Linked DNA regions of Homo sapiens: regions 2, 3 and 4 are each reported to be linked to region 1. Evidence: microRNA targets listed by miRTarBase, many of them from high-throughput screens and not tested one by one. Region 1 holds a microRNA gene; each other region holds the end of a gene's coding sequence.
What was found. Region 1 holds the annotated microRNA hsa-miR-1273h-3p (CUGCAGACUCGACCUCCCAGGC, at 2,915-2,936, opposite strand). A microRNA usually pairs through its seed, bases 2 to 8, with sites in the 3' UTR of a target mRNA and lowers its output. Matches are read on the target gene's strand: a 7mer-m8 pairs with bases 2 to 8, a 7mer-A1 pairs with bases 2 to 7 and ends in A, and an 8mer does both.

Region 1 (4,068 bases):
ATCTTTTATCTCTTATGTTTATTTAGGGAGGAAGTCAGTAGGAGAGGGGTCTTTTGTGTTTGATACTAAGTCTGTTTTGTTTTGCTCTTGCTTTTCTTAATTTTCATTAAAAAATAACATCCAGTGTTTTGATTTCCTCCAGATCTCAGTTTAAATGGCACCCTGTCAGAGAAGCTGTTCCAGACCACCTTCAAATAAAGAGGATTCTCATTCTTCCCTCCTGTTATTCTCTGTCAAGATATCCTGTTCATTTCTTTAACAGAAATAAAATCTGGTATATCTCAGTCTATAATTATTAATACATGTTCATTCTCTGTTGATTGTCTATGTTCTCATCTAGACTGTAAGCCACATGAGAGCAAAATCACATCTGTTTTATTCACCACTGCGTTTCTAGAACCCAGGGATGAAAAAAAATCAAATGGACAAATAATAGTGTATGTTAAGCACTAACTATGAGCCAGATACTGTGTTAAGTGTTTTGCAAGCTTTACCTCCTTTAATCCCCCCAAAAGCTCTATGAAGTCCTTGCTGTGCAATGAGAAAATGGGTTTAGTTTAAGTATCTGACCACGATTTGATCCTAGATTTGACAAGAGATCCAGACTCTTCTATCAGTCTCCTACATTTATCGCAGAAACAAACAAGCTATTAAAAAGCACCAAGATGCCAGGCATGGTGGTGCCATGCCTATAATACCAGCACTTTGGGAGGCCCAGGTGGAAGGATCACTTGAGATCAGGAGTTTGAGACCAGCCTGGGCAACATAGAGAGAACCTGTCTCTACAAAGAATTTTTTAAAAATTGGCCAGGCATGGTGGTGCATGCCTGTGGTCCCAGCTGTTCAAGAGGCTGAGGCACGGGGAATCCCTTGAGCCCAGGAACTGGAGGCTGCAGTGAGCTATGACTGTTCCACTTCACTTCAGCCTGGGTAACAGAGTAAGACCCTGTCTCTAAAAAAAAAAAAAAAAAAAAAAGGAATTATAATAATAATTTTTTTTTTGAGATGAAGTCTCACTTTGTCGCCCAGGCTGGTGTGCAGTGGCACGATCTCGGCTCACTGCAACCTCCACCTCCCGGGTTCAAGCGATTCTCCTGCCTCAGCCTCCCAAGTAGCTGGGACTACAGGCACCCATCACCATGCCCAGCTAATTTTTGTATTTTTAGTAGAGACGGGGTTTCACTATGTTGGCTAGGCTGGTCTCGAACTCCTGACCTCGTGATCTGCACGCCTTGGCCTCCCAAAGTGCTAGGATTACAGGCATGAGCCTCTGTGCCTGGCCATAAAAAATTTTAAAACACACAAAAGAATCCTTCTTAATCCCGCCACCCCAAATCTCTGTATTATGTTAACATCTTGGTTTGTATCCTAGATGGCTGGATGAATAGATGAATGGATGTTTTTTAGTTTTTAGACAAAGGTGGAATCATGACTCTGTTCTTTTGCTTGCTTTTTAAAAGAAACTAGATGAAATACACTCTAAACATCTTCCCATGTCAACAGAATATCATTTTTTTTCTTATCTATTCTTCACCATTCATCCTAAACCCACATTGTTGGCTTCAAGTAAACTCACCCTCAAATAGTAATTATCCCTTCTATTTGCCTATCTTTTTATAGCTTTGATTCCCACAAGGCTGTGAGATAGGCAGGAAAAGGATTATCTCTACTTAACAGATAATTTTAAGAGTTAACAGTTTGTTCAGGGTCATATAGGGTCAAGTAGGAGAGCCAAGATCCAGAGCCCATCTGTTCAATTCCAAAGCCCATGGGCTTTCCATTACATCCCATTGCCTCATACTATGTATCTGATTGTGTGGCACGGACTTAAAAGTTAAGCTAACCTGGGTACCAATCCTGGCTCCAACAATTCCCAGCTATACAACCTTCAAGCAAGTTAGCTAAGTCCCCTAAGCTCAAGTTTCTTGTAGGGTGTGGCGAGAATGACTTGATAAAATTCACATCAAATACTTAACATGGTAGCTGGTGGTTACTGCTGAGGGCTGACTGACCCATTCATGTCCAGTGAGTAAGTCTGACAGGGCTGTGCTCTGGCTTGAAAGAGGTCCTGTACGCTCTGCCAAACCCTAAATTCCTACCCATATTCCCATCCCAATTACAAGCAGAATGAGGACCTGCCAGTGCTACTTTAGACATAGAACAGAAACCTTCCCACTTAGCCTGGTGCATCACGGCAGGAAGCTACAAGACAAAGCCAGGCCCTGGGGCTCCCAGTTAGAGGAAGTGAGAAAAAGACGTGTACCCTGGGAAGAAAAAGGGATGCATTTCCGTTCCCATCCAAGCCTCACTTCCTTAGAAAGACATTTCAGGTAGATTAACACACCATCTCTGTGCTGTTTTCCATATGCCATTTGGGGGGGCATTTTGTGGTTATTTTTAAGAGACTGCACTTGTAACAAAACAAAAAGTAAGCTTTCTGTTTTCCTTTCTGGGTCATGAGCTGGTCTCAACCCTCCAAATTCAACTGTCACTGGAAGTCTTTGTGGAGTTGGAATTTCTATTGGGAGTGGCTGTGAAGGTAGGAAGAACATCAGCAAATGTGGTGATATGGTTTGAATGTGTTCTCCCAAAGTTCTTGTGCTGGACACTTAATCCCCAATGCAACAGTGTTGAGAGGTGGGAACTTTTGGAGGTGACTGGATTGATGTTATTATTGTGGGAGTGAATTTATTTAAAAAGTAAGTTACCCTCCCTCATGTGTTCTCTTGCCATGTGATGCCTTCTATCAGGTTACTATGCAGCAAGAAGGTCCTCCCCAGATACAGCCCCTGATCTTGTACTTCCCACCCTCCAGAACCATGAGCCAAATAAATTTCTTTTCATTGTAAGTTATCCACTTTTTTTTTTTTGAGACAGGGTCTCACTCTGTCACTCGAGCAGGAGGATTGCTTAAGCCTGGGAGGTCGAGTCTGCAGCAAGCTGTGACCACGACACTGCAGCCTTGACCTCCCAGGCTCAAGCAATCCTGCCTTAGTCACCCAAGTAGCTGGGACTACAGGCATGTGCCACCCCACCTGGTTGATTTTTGTAATTTTTGTGTGTGTAAAGACAGATTTTGCCATGTTCCCCAAGCTGGTCTCAAACTCCTGGGCTCAAGCTCAAGTGATCTGCCCATGTTAACCTCCCAAAGTGCTGGAATTACAGGCATGAGCCACTGCACCAGGCCCCAGTTTCAGGTATTCTTATAGCAGCACAAAACAGACTAAGACAGACACACAATGTCATAAAAATGAAGGAGAAGAGGGGCTTAAAAAGAAAGAAGGCACTCTGAACTTTTCCTACAGATAAACTCACTTATATAGGAAACTAGGAAGTTATTCAAAGGGTGATGTAGAGTTAGATAAGCAGATAAGAAACAATCTCCAAGACAGAGGGGAATAATGCAAGATACAGAAATTGTACACAGCATGCTAACATCCTTGTGTGTGATGTAGACTATTTCTGGGCCTGAACACATCTTCTCTAGAAGGTCACACAAGAACCTGGTTGCAATGGGTGTCTCTGGGAAGGAGAACCAGGAAGCCTAGCTAGGAGCCATGGGTGAGGGGAATCTTAATTTCACTTTGTAGCTTCTGATGCTGCTTGAATATTTTATTTTTTCACATTTTTTTAAAGGAGAAAGGATTAGAGCACCTAATAATATGGTGAGGTCAAGAAAGATGAGACAAGCTTATGAGAAGAGGCAGTTTTCAGGTCATTGATGACTCAATGAGAAAAATATCAATAGGATGGCGGGAGCAGAAGCCAGATTGCACCAAACTGAGGAAACAATAAATTGTCATCAAGTGGAAATAGCAGGAACTGGCAACTCTTTCAAAAGTGTGTTTGTATGCAAAGTAAGGTAGGGTAGTAATCATAGCAGTAGTAAGAGTAGTAGTAAGGAGGATTCCCAGGTTTGAGGTAGGGGATTTTTAACATGAAAAAGACATAGCAGGTTTATGCACAAAGGAGAAGGCCAGGATAGAGTCAGAAAGGACAGCTGCTGTTTTTGCCCAGCCAGCAGGCATTGTCTTTTCTTCTAGTGACAGTGGCTTTATTTTTCTTTTT
Region 2 (4,062 bases), not on the chromosome of region 1:
AGGCCAGAACCAGATAGCACCACCTTTATCTTTTCACTCTTTTGACATTCCTAATTTTGTTTTTCACAGGATCTGGTGAAAAGCCATTTGATGTATGCAGTAAGAGAAGAAGTGGAAGTTTTAAAGGAACAAATAAAAGAATTAGTTGAAAGAAACTCTTTACTTGAACGAGAAAATGCACTGTTAAAATCTCTTTCAAGCAATGATCAATTATCCCAACTCCCAACCCAACAGGCCAATCCTGGTAGCACTTCTCAACAGCAAGCAGTGATAGCACAGCCTCCGCAGCCAACGCAACCTCCACAGCAGCCGAATGTCTCCTCAGCATAAAGCTTTCTTAAGCCTCATTAAGAAAAAAACTGAAAGCAATCTATCCTTGTGTGCCACTGGTGTTCTTTCCACTTTATACGAAAGCAAGTAGCCATGCTTTGGTTGTGTGTTTGGCCTTTTCAGTATTAGACAATCATTCTACAAGAGCTTTTCCTCTCTCTGAGATGTCATGCAGCGCTGTTGATGTCCAGTTCTATGTCATCAGTACACAAGGAGAATAATAGATGGGGTTTATTAAAGCGAGCAAAGTCTGCATTTTACCTGGTGCGCATGAGTGGGGTCTTTAAGAGTTTTGGTGGCTCTCCCATGTTTCCTATTACCCATGGATTTACCCTGAGCCTTCCTATCACATTATAAATAACAGTTCATCTAAAGAGCCACTTTTCTTTCTGATTCAGTAACATTTGCCTACATAAGTTTTCATTTATTTGTGTTTTATTTATTACAGGGCTGCTATTTTCATAATGTACATGAACAATGTCACAGAACTTTTTTAATTTTTTTGAATAATTATAAGTATCAGTAAAGGAAGTGAAAGACAGGATTGCATTTAATAGATAAAACGTTTAGGCAATAATTGAACAAAAGAATCCTGGCATATTTCTAACACTAATGGCAATTTACTTATGGTATTTATTTTCAGTAGTAAAGACCCAGCTTGAATGTAAATTTTGTATAGTGTAAGTATGAAGAACATAGTGCAACTGTACAGGTAGTCACCAGTTATTGTGATATGATAAATAATTGGGCTATTTTGATGAAGAAAACTTTGTTCATTTGTTTCTACTTTCTAAGAGAAATTGCCACGATTCCTCTGCTTTTCAACATTTCGTATGACTTTTTTTTCGGGTGGGAATAAAAAGCTGTGAAATTGTTCAACCTACTTTGTAACCAAAGAAGCAAAGCTGTGTAATGGAGTTTGGTTTTTTTTTGTTGTTTTTTTTTTTTTGTCTTTTTTTTTTTTTATAATGCACATTCTTTATGTATTTTTATTTAGTGTTTTCTCAGTCACAATTTTCTTTACTGTCTAGCATGATCTGCATGACCTATAATCTTTGAACCACTTTCGTACCTCATGTTTTTATCCAGCACTCTTATTGTAATATGTACTAGTCTGTGAACAATGTCAAATAAAAGAGAACGAACAGGTAGTTTGGTGGAGCTGAGCTAGTGTACAATACACTAGTTGTAAAAAAAAAAAAAAAAAAAAGTGAGCCATCTTTTGTTCATTTAAAATGGTGTTTTGAATTTCGTATGCAGAAAACGTTTTGTTACATTGCAGATTTTAATGTATTTAATAAATGCAACATGCAGATTAAGTGCAGTGTATACTGAGTATTTAAATTAAAATGTACATTTCATAAATACAGTTTCAAAAGAAAGCATCATTTTGTGTATACTAACACATTAAGTGTATGTCAGAAATTGATGTATAAATATATATTTTAACATTTTCTGAAATTAAACTGCAGTTTTGTTGAAATATTTGGCTCTATATGTGTTCAAAATTTGACTAGATTTGTATTTTCACAGTTCAAAATACTCCTTAAAGACCTGTTAATAATGACTTACTGATAGTTCTTAAATTTTCAAAGTAAAACAATTTAAAGAATGCAAAAATAGTGAGCAATATTTGTACTCAATATTCATATTATGTTAGTGATACTTAAGTAGGAAATCCTTGTCTACCAAAACTTTTACTTGAATTCAGAAAGGTGCCTGTAGAAATTAACATGCACTGCATCTGTAGCCAGCTAGCTAATCAGAGTTAATGAGAACCAGTAGTTAGTTCTCCGTGTTAAAAGACTTATTTGAAGTAAAAATTTAATCAGATTAGCCACAAACAAACAAGGCATAAAATTGGGATGTACATGAGATTGCCAAATATTTTCTATTCTAGTTGTGCTGCAAGACATTGAACAAAATGTTAATGAATAACATTATAAATCAAGGAACTAAGTACATAGGCTTGAGTAAGCAACCCTAAGGATGTGTAGTAAGATTCCAAGTAGAGCTGCTACAGGTGAGATACTTAATGGAATGTGAAACTTCACTGTTGGACTGTTAACCGAAAAGGTTTGCTGGCTGTGCCCCTCCAGTGCTAACTGTGACATGTGATATTTAATACAGGTGGAGAAAAACTAGTCTTAGAAATGGGATTTTTGTGAAAATAGATTCCATTTTGATTCTGGGGCTGGAAAAACACTTCATAAACAAAGTAATAGTCTCCAAGGAAATGAATAATAAGGTTTAAAATGGTAACAGCAGTTATTACTACTTTTATATTAAGAAAAACAGTAGAAAAGGAGAGAAAATATGGGTAGTTCACAGAAGAGATAAATGGCAGTTTCTAAAGGTTCAACCTCTAGTAACCTAAGAAATGCAAATTAATGTTTTTGGCGAATTGTAATAAGTGTCCTAAGTAGCAGGACTTAACATAGAAAGAAAGACAGGCTTTCCTGTGTACTTTTAGAAAGTAATTTGGCAGTATGTATCTAGAGCCTTAAATAATAAGCTTTCCAGTGTAACGACAGGAGAAGATACTCAACTCATGGTCCATTGTTCAAAAATGCAGAATTATTGTGGTGTCTGCCCTCTGCTTTCCCATCATCCCCTCCCCTCAAAATCCAAACTATCCCTACTGTCAACCCTTCCCCCAGCTGATTGTTTAGGATCTTAAGTAACTTCCAATTCAGCTTTGGAGATTTAGTCTCCTGCTCCAAATAGTTGTAAATATTAACTGATTGAGATCCCAATTTGGAGGCACAGTCTTACAGGAATGCCATCTATCTAATTCTGTCAGTGTAATGCCCATAGAGCAAGGTCCCACATAAGCTTTTCTGTTTTAATTTAGCCGGTAAATCATAAGTAGAAATTTTTCTGATACGGTAATTGTCTACAATTCAAACCTAACTTTCCCCAAATAAAATTTAGTTTGTTCCGATGTGATCTCACAGCTTGCCACACCAAAAACAAATAGTAGGGGTTAGGAGGCATTAAATAAACAGTTTCCTTAACTCCTGATTGTCCAAAATAGCTGAATTTTTCCAATTCTATTTATAATATCCTATGCTAATTAGAAGTATTGAGATAACGTTTTATAATCAAGCCTCCAGTGACTGGGGATCACAGCTGCCATTATTCACAAGAATTTTCACAGGTGAATGATTATATTTCTCCAAGTTGCAAACTCCAGTAATTCATGGACCTTTTTTTAAAAAAAAAAAAAGTCTTAATAGAACCAGAATATCTCTGTTCTTGAAAATTTATCTTTGCAGAACCAGAAATAGCTAATTGTCTGGAAACAATTTTTAAGATTTGAAGTCACATTTTTAAAAGAAGCTTTATGGCTCAGTGGCAAGCACTTTGTGACATTTCTTTAATAATCCTATGAAAAGGACAAAACCCAGCCCTCAAAATTGACAATTTGAGGACATAATAAGCCAACTGATAATGCAGTGAGGAATACTTGTTACTATGTACAGTCAGGGATGGTTTTGTCAGGGTAGGTTTCCTCAAAAACATGACACCTGAGTCTTGAAGGTCATAAGAGCCAGAGGGAAGGGTGTTCCAAGCACAAGAAAAGAGAACTCAATGGCTTAAAAGTATAAACAAGGCTCCTAGGGCAGCCACAGAATTGCATTGGAGACAGGCAGGCAGTGACTTCCCCACTGACCTAGTATTTTGGCATCTATTCAGAAAGCAAGAATGATTTATTGAATGGTTTTAAGC
Region 3 (4,062 bases), not on the chromosome of region 1:
TTAAGGTCATGGCAGGTGGGTGGGGGAGGCAAAGAACTTGGCATAAGGAGCCTAGACGAGATCAGGGGTGACTGGAGCTCCCCAGTCAAGAGAGAGCTAAACTTGGTGAAGTAACATTTCTAGCTCTAAAAGAAAACATAAATTAAAACTGAATATTTTTCAGGCAGTGTAGTATAGTTCCTTAAAAAACAAAGTTAGAGTTCCATTTTTTAACTCACAAGCACATTATATGACTTAATAGGAGTTTAAGGTCAATATATACAAATTATTAACTTATGTAAATTAATTTATCAGCTGCCTAATTCAGGGAAACCAAAAAATACATTTAAAATAGACTAGTAAAATAGATTTCACCCAGTATCACTTTCTTTTGAAGCCCTCTAAGAAGCTGCCTAATTATTACTTATTTGAATGACTTAAAGTGTATTTTATCACATAAAGCAACAAACATCATCTTGTTTATATTGTTGATAAAATAACAATTTTCCTTAAGAGAAAATATTTTTTAAAAATCTTGCATTGCAAGATTTCATTCTTAGCAAATGGGAGAAACTATTCTTTCCACTTTTCATGCCTAATTTCTACTGCTGTAGAAGTCCTTTTAATTGGGCCCTCATAACTATATTCAATTAGAATTATTAAAGTTAATTGGTACTCCTTTAACTCACTAAGACAACCCAGAAAACAGGCAATAAGGCATGTTTTTGAAGAAAGGAAAACACTGCACACATAATACAGTGTAGGAGGGGAAAAAAAATACAAATAGCTTCAAACACTGTCATATCTAAGTATGTGACATTTGGAAGGCAGCATTTAAAAAACAATCCTCATTGGACTCAAGAGGATTTTAAAGCATCTCCGTTAGAGTGAGGTAGTGAGGGGATAGATAGAAGCTATCTAAGATAGAAGCTACCTAAGTCCCCTTCTACTACCTGGAACTCACTCACGGAAACCCATTTCTCTCTTAGATACTCAAGAAAGCAATGTTTACAAAATTATAAAAAACATTTTTATGATAGGTTAACATGGGAGCTTGCATACATAAGAAGTTCCAGAGGAGAAAACATGACATTCAGTTAAATGCAACATGGGCCAAGGAAGACAGAGACCCCAGCTCTGACAAGCATAAATTAGGATATTATGCACCTGACACATTCAGAATGTCCATTTTCTTTCCCATCAGAGTATGAAGTCCAACAATGAAGTCAATACATAAAAAAGGTGACCTGATTTTACCTGGTGTAAAATTTTAGTTAGCACTACTAGCAAATTATGAAGTTTGGAAATTTGTTGTAGTATATACTAATTTAAAATTTACTCAAATTCCTGTTTGTTTGAGACAAGAGTCTTGCTGTGTCACCCAGGCTGGAGTGCAGTGGCGCGATCTCGGCTCACTTTAGGCTCTGCCTCCCAGGTTCAAGGGATAATGCCTCAGCCACCAGGGAGTAAGGGACTACAGGTGTGCACCACCACACCCTGCTAATTTTGTATTTTTTGTAGAGACGGGGGGTTCTCCATGTTGGCCAGGCTGGTCTCAAACTCCTGACCTCAAAGTGATCTGCCTGCCTTGGCCTCCCAAAGTGCTGGAATTATAGGCATGAGACACCCCATACCTGGCCTCAAATTCCTTTTTTATCTTCATTCTCTACTTGAACAAATATTAATCTTTAAAATAATTTTAGAGACAGTATCTGATAATCAAAGACCAAGTGCTTTTATCAGTTATATAGTGACACACTGCTTGGATCAAGTGGAAAATATCTCAAAAATACACTCATAACGAAGTATCAAAAGCCTTAAAATTTTGCATATTTGGTAACCCAGCAATTCAAAGAATTTAAGAAAACAGTCATGGATGTACATGGGATTCAGTGAAGTGCTGTTTATAACTGTGAAAAGATGTAAATAGTCAAAATATCCAATAGAAGATTAAATGAATTATGATTGAGTCATACAGCAGAATAATAAACCAATAAAAATGATGCAGAAGACTATGCATGACCTGGAAAAGATGTTCCCAATATATTGTTAAGTGAAAAAAGCAGGTTACAAAATGGTATGCACAATATGAGCCCATTTTTATAAAAATATACATATTTAGCAAAGTAAAAGGACAAATGATATTTATCAAAATATTAACATTGGTTCTTTCAACATAGTAGGATGACTGTTGATTTTGCTTAACTACTCCCCCATTTTTTCCTATTTGAATTTACTACAATGAAGTTTGTTTTTTAAATGGAGAGTAGGAGATGAGGACATTATTAACCTCTGATTAGCCCACATATACTCCTAAAGGCTCCTTCTGGCAAAGTAAATGTTTCTGTTCAGCCTATATCTGGGAAATTGCTTCTACCTTATAAATTTGAGTGTCCTTCAAAGATGATATTCACTCCAACTTCCTTTTAGGCAAACTATACAATAGCAATTTTTGATATTAAAAACTTAAAAAAGAAATCCCTCAAGTTAATTAACACCAAAAAGAATAGATGAGAAAATACAAATCCTCACTTTTCAAAAAGAAACAATCCAAGTACATACTACTAAATTATACAAAGTTACATTATTTACGTTTAGTTTATTGCAGAGATGAAGACAGCATACTAGAAGTTGGCTTCTATTTCACACCGTTCACAGCACTCACTCTGTTCTCCATTTCATCCACTCACCCATGCAAAAGGTCTGTACACGCAATGATGTCTGATGTTTCTTGGTTTCCATAGTGTAACAGGAAACTTGACATTTCAATTAAAAAGGTAAAATGAAGACATTTACCATCAGACTATAAAACTCCTCTTCTGTAAGAGAATACTATAGTACTTGAAGATATGATTTGAAAAAAAATCATGTACCAAATGAAAGGGGCACCATTTCAAGAGCACTAGGACTACATTAAACTTAAATATATTCCCACATTCTTAAAAATGTAACTCAAAACCAAATCTAGTCTTAAAAAAGCTCCAGTAACTAAAACTACATTAACAGGCACGATGAACAGTGTAAACACTGTTAATGGGCACCAAGTTTAACAGGGCAGACAATATTTGCTTCTGCATTCACACTTATTCAATTACATTTTTTAAAAAAATGATGCTGCTTAAACTATTAATGTTTTACCAAAAAAATAATAATTTTAATAAATACAGCAAATGCTAGAAATCTAGCTAGGTTATCATGCAAGGTATAACCAAGACAAACTCAAATTTATAATAAAGGCAACTTGCATTCAAAATGAACTCTACCCTTATATTTTATTAAAAGGGCAAACATCATGAATTAACCCAGCCGCTTACTTGAATTACAAAAGTAACATGATTCAATATGAAAATAAGAAACTGTCTACAAATCTCTGACAGTAATAAATTGCAATATACAATGCATACAGGAGTCATACAGAGCAACAAACTCTCGTACAAAACAAAAATATTTTAATACCTTTAAAATCCAAATTTTTCTTTAAAATCATTCATGAAAAAGATTCTCAAGTCAGAATTAACACCTCAATTAGTCAAGCATCAGGAAGCTACATTACAGCTATTAATATACAAAGATACATCTTTTCACCAGTCTTTCCTTCTGATGTCTCTGTTCCAGAATCATACAGACTCTCATTTCTCTACACTCCCCATTCCATCATTTCTTCAGATCATGAAAACTGAATTTGCTGAACACCAGAAATCTAAGATTAGAAAATTTAAATTGAGCAGAATTAAAGAAAAGGAGATTAAAAGTACCATATGCATATTATAAAAATTCAGTGAATAAAAAGACAATAACAAGTCTAATTCCCATTTCTTGTGTATCTTTCTAGAAATCTCCTATGCAAATATGAACATATGCTTATTTTTAACTATTAAGAGAACACTATATACTGTTATCTACATTGAGAAAACACAATTTTAATAACCTTCTTTATCAGGTCCTTAATAGCATGTTGAAATTAACTATATCAATAGATATAATAAAAAAAAAATTTTTTTTTTGAGACAGAGTCTCACTCTATTGCCCAGGCTGGAGTGCAGTGGTGTGATCTCAGCTCACTGCAACCTCCACCTCCAGGGT
Region 4 (4,062 bases), not on the chromosome of region 1:
TTCTATTAGTTTCTTGGCACAAGAAATGCAATTGCATATGGCACACGCATTTCAAGAAATGAAGTAAAATCTGAAAATATCCCTAGAATAATTGTTTGCTAATTTTTATTTCTGTACATTTCAGTCATTTAGATTTTTTTCAGAGTGAACATGACAGCCATTAATTTTATTAGTCTAAAAAAATGACTTATTCTACTCTAAAATTGTGCTAGAATTTGAAATTATTTTAGCATATCCTGTCCGTCTAGGTCCCTCTATATCAAGGGATTTCATTTTTAGACATTCCTTTCCACCCACCCCTGTGCCCCCCTTGGATGTAACAAGGAAAAAGGAATGTCTCTTCTGTTTAAAAAAAAAAAATTCTGAGAAACCTGATTGCAGAAATGAGTGCTTAAAATTTATAATAATTAACCAACATAATGAAATGTGGTTTTTAAAGATTGAGAACTAAATTTGTAAAGGAATCTAAGTCATGAACTTGAAAAGAATGTCTGCTTAAATGTGTCACTTACTGATCACAGGAAAAACTTTATAAGCCTTAATATAGACTCTGAGCATTCAGAACCTGTAAAATGGAGTTATAATCTCTTACTAGAAACTTCTGCAAAAACGCACCTATATTGCACAGCTAAATTTATTAATGGAGACAGGGAGATAATACTTTTTTTATGCTACTGGATATGACATGTATGCTCTATCCTAAACTAATATTTCCTACCTTTCCCAATGATGTCTTCAGTTCAAAACAAAACAAAGAGTCTAAATTTTGTTAGATGCTTAAAGGCTGGCTCACTGTTTTTCTACCAGGTATTAGAATACTAGTTAGCTAAATGAGGTATAATTAAAAAATAGACCTTCAAAGTAAAGAGTATAGTCTTCTGAAAATTTATAACAAAGACTGCACAAAATGTTTCTGTAAATAGTAAGAAACCCTGCAGCACCTACTAACTGATGCACAGGTAGATTATTGTATCATAATCTGTCTGAAGTAAAATATAGCTAAAATAAGTTCCCAGCGAAACGTTTTACAATCAACTGATTTACATGCTACTTAGTTACAGCACATTTTCACTGTCTGATACCCTCAGACTCTATTTGAAAAGGTCTAGTCCAATCACTGTCAAAAATTAACACACTGATTAATAAAGTGCAGCCACTGAACCACTAATACTGCTGCAAAAATCTTCATGTACCTTATCCATAAGACCACAAAAATGTTCACAAAAAAACTAGATTTCTTCAGTTTCAGCGGGGAACAGACAATTATCTGTCATTAAATTCATCTACAAATAGAAAAAATAATGCACTGTATGTACATTATTAAGCAAAGTGGAATATTTATTGGGTCATTTTATCATGCAGAAAGTGAATTTCCTAAGGTCTTAGCTCAATGTATATACAATCTAGCAAAGCTAAATGTAAGAAAATAGCAAGGACAATTTATTTCTATATAACAGAGCATATACTCCCAATTTGCTGCTACTTCAAAGAGCACTTTTAGACTCATCTAACTTTTACAGGCTCTTTCAAGTGAAGTTCATGGAGACTAGTTATTAATCCATATAAGACAAAAGAAGAAAGAAGAAATATAACCAAAGCAAAGCATTCTGTTAAAAAAAAAAGTAATAAAAGCTAACCACAGAATATGTCAGTTTTGGTTTGCAGACAACCCCTGAGATTATATAAACCAAAGCGTTAAGACACCAAATAGTCAGAGGTAAATTACTAAGAGAATTACATTCATACATGGTGTCATAGCACTTATCTTTTAGAAGGTACTTTGTTACCATCCAGAAAGCGTTAACTGCTTGGATTTTTTCAGGAAATAGTGAATATTAAGATGTTTCTAAAAAATTATCTTTTCCTTTTGAAAATGTATCTAATTTGAAGATAGTAGAATTACAATAAACTTTCAATCACGGAACTACTAATTATACTAGAACAGCAACGAATGACTTTTAAGCCTATAGGTAATTACCAAAAAAAAAAAAATTAAGGAGGCTGAAATTTGTCAACAATAAGTTTAGTATATCTATTAAAAATAGCTTGGGCATATTTGCAGCTGCTAAATTGTTCCTATATTTTCAAATAAGTACAAAAGATTGACTGGTCCAAGCATTCTAATGACATATCTTAATTTGAAGAGAATTCTCTGTGGTAACAAGCAATCCCTTTCCACTGCCATCTCCTGTTCTTATCTATCCAGCATGATAGTAGCCTTTGTGAAGCAAAACAGGCATACCAGGAAGAATAATTATTAACAGAATTCATTTCCCTCATCCCCTCTGTTTTATCCCCCCTGTGTTATGACACTGAAGGCTAGAGCAACAACGACATAGTGATCTGAATTTGGCACACAAGTTAACACTAAATACCTTGTGATGGTTTCATCTACAAAAGTATACCAGTACCAGTGTTTGTTGAGAAAGGCAACTAAGCTTTTGGTTGGCTTTAGCCCAAATGACTGGACTAAGTTCTGTAACAATGAACCAAAACAGATGGAACTGGGTTCTACACAATCAACAACAGCTGTTTGAAAACTGAAACCTTGGTCCTGTTTTCTCTAATGAAAAGGCAAGACTTTTCCTAGAGGCTGCACTAGGTCTAAGTACTTTTATTTCTAAAAACATCTGCCAAATAAAACCAACCAAAACTCATTATTTTCACCATTACCAAGAGCTAGCTCTATTAAATTTATATCAACAAGTTAATCTGTCTCTATATAGGGAAGGTTTCCGCAAACTAAAATCTAAACCTAACTTTTGTAGACAGGGATTATGGTAGGAATTTGGTATTACAACTAAACCAGCCAGCTAAGGAGTGAACCTAAGAAAAAATATATTACATATCCTTATTGACAGAATCACAGTTAGATGCTGCACTAAAACCCTAAATGGTATATCTCTCAGCCCACGTAAAATTTCAGCTCAAGAAGTTCACAAATAGAAACAGATAATAATGTTCAAATATTACTTAAGAGTGATTACACTTAAGTCAAACATGGGAAAGAATAGCAAATACAAACCCCAGGGAAAAATGAGATTATGGTGATTTCCAAATGCAGTTTCTATAGATTAGGCAGAGGTAATCATTTTAAAGTGATTCATTCAGCTACCCAGACTCTGGAAAACAGGTCGGGGATGAGGCAAAGCTCTTAATCTGAAGAAATAAAGAAATTGTGGCCTTTGATGACAAGATGGGCATTTCAGTAAATTTTTTTAATGACTTTAATGATTCTTATTTAAGAAAAAGCCCTTAAATAAATGCTACCAAGGCAGTAATATTTGACCATATGAACCAGACCAAATACCCTTTAATTTTAGTATATTAACCTCTGCTGTAAATGCTCTTTTAACATTGCCACATGTACAAATTTGTCTAGAACTTCACGACACAAAAGTGTGCAAATATGAGTCTAAGATTGTGCTGAAATAGGGAAAGGCTAACACTGATGTGCAAAGTAAAAAAGAAAGATAACCGCTTCTGCAACAGGTAATAAAACAAGGAAAAAACGAGTTAGGTCCTGCATGTGTCTCCACTTCATTGCTTCCATGTTTGAAAAAGGGAGTCTGTTCTTTTGCTAGGCCATGAGGCTGGAATCCACTTGGCATACTGTGTTGAGAGGTCTAAGTTCAGTGGTGCTCTCAGCAGCAGCCGGGAGGTGTGATTCTGAGGCTGGGTGACCTGTGCTTTCAGAGAAGCAGGAAAGGGCCCTCTAGGTGTGCTGCAGTCTCTCAGAAAGAGTTCATCAAAGTAGCGAGCAACGAAAGAAACTGGTCTTCTTTGATCGGTTTTCTGTTATTTTCACTGGTCCACCTGCTCCTGCTGAATTGCTGTCATTCTAAAAAATAGAAGATGAAGTTACCAAGGAAATAAAAGTTTCATGGTTTGACCTCAGTTACCTAAAAAATAAAAATAACTAACCATACCATGTGAAATGTGTATTCTAGTGAAATGTGTATTCACTAGAGTATTTTATTAGAACGGGAACTAGTTAAGCACCAATGTTGTCTTTTTCTTTGGAAATGGTGAATTGAAAAGAGGAAAATGCCCTTACGATAG

Region 2: the mRNA of TSC22D2 is a reported target of hsa-miR-1273h-3p. Seed matches in the 3' UTR shown: 7mer-m8 at 579-585.
Region 3: miRTarBase lists NFYB as a target of hsa-miR-1273h-3p. Seed matches in the 3' UTR shown: 7mer-A1 at 2,582-2,588.
Region 4: miRTarBase lists RAB8B as a target of hsa-miR-1273h-3p. Seed matches in the 3' UTR shown: 8mer at 1,660-1,667 and 7mer-A1 at 376-382.

The regions. Positions count from the first base shown.
Region 1 is chr16:24,202,054-24,206,121 of GRCh38, reverse strand. MIR1273H (microRNA 1273h) reads right to left here and starts at 3,006; the gene lies at 2,891-3,006. All of the region lies in intron 16 of PRKCB (protein kinase C beta), which reads right to left.
Region 2 is chr3:150,458,307-150,462,368 of GRCh38, forward strand. TSC22D2 (TSC22 domain family member 2) reads left to right here. Exons shown (of 3, transcript NM_001303264.2): 3 at 70-4,062. The coding sequence ends at 330. Among named protein-coding and RNA genes, the nearest start is that of TSC22D2, 52 kb to the left of the region's middle.
Region 3 is chr12:104,116,091-104,120,152 of GRCh38, forward strand. It overlaps NFYB (nuclear transcription factor Y subunit beta), which reads right to left. Exons shown (of 8, transcript NM_006166.4): 8 at 996-3,679. The coding sequence ends at 3,647. Among named protein-coding and RNA genes, the nearest start is that of NFYB, 20 kb to the right of the region's middle. RefSeq lists an enhancer at 502-671.
Region 4 is chr15:63,263,306-63,267,367 of GRCh38, reverse strand. RAB8B (RAB8B, member RAS oncogene family) reads right to left here. Exons shown (of 8, transcript NM_016530.3): 8 at 1-3,841. The coding sequence ends at 3,749. Among named protein-coding and RNA genes, the nearest start is that of APH1B, 12 kb to the left of the region's middle.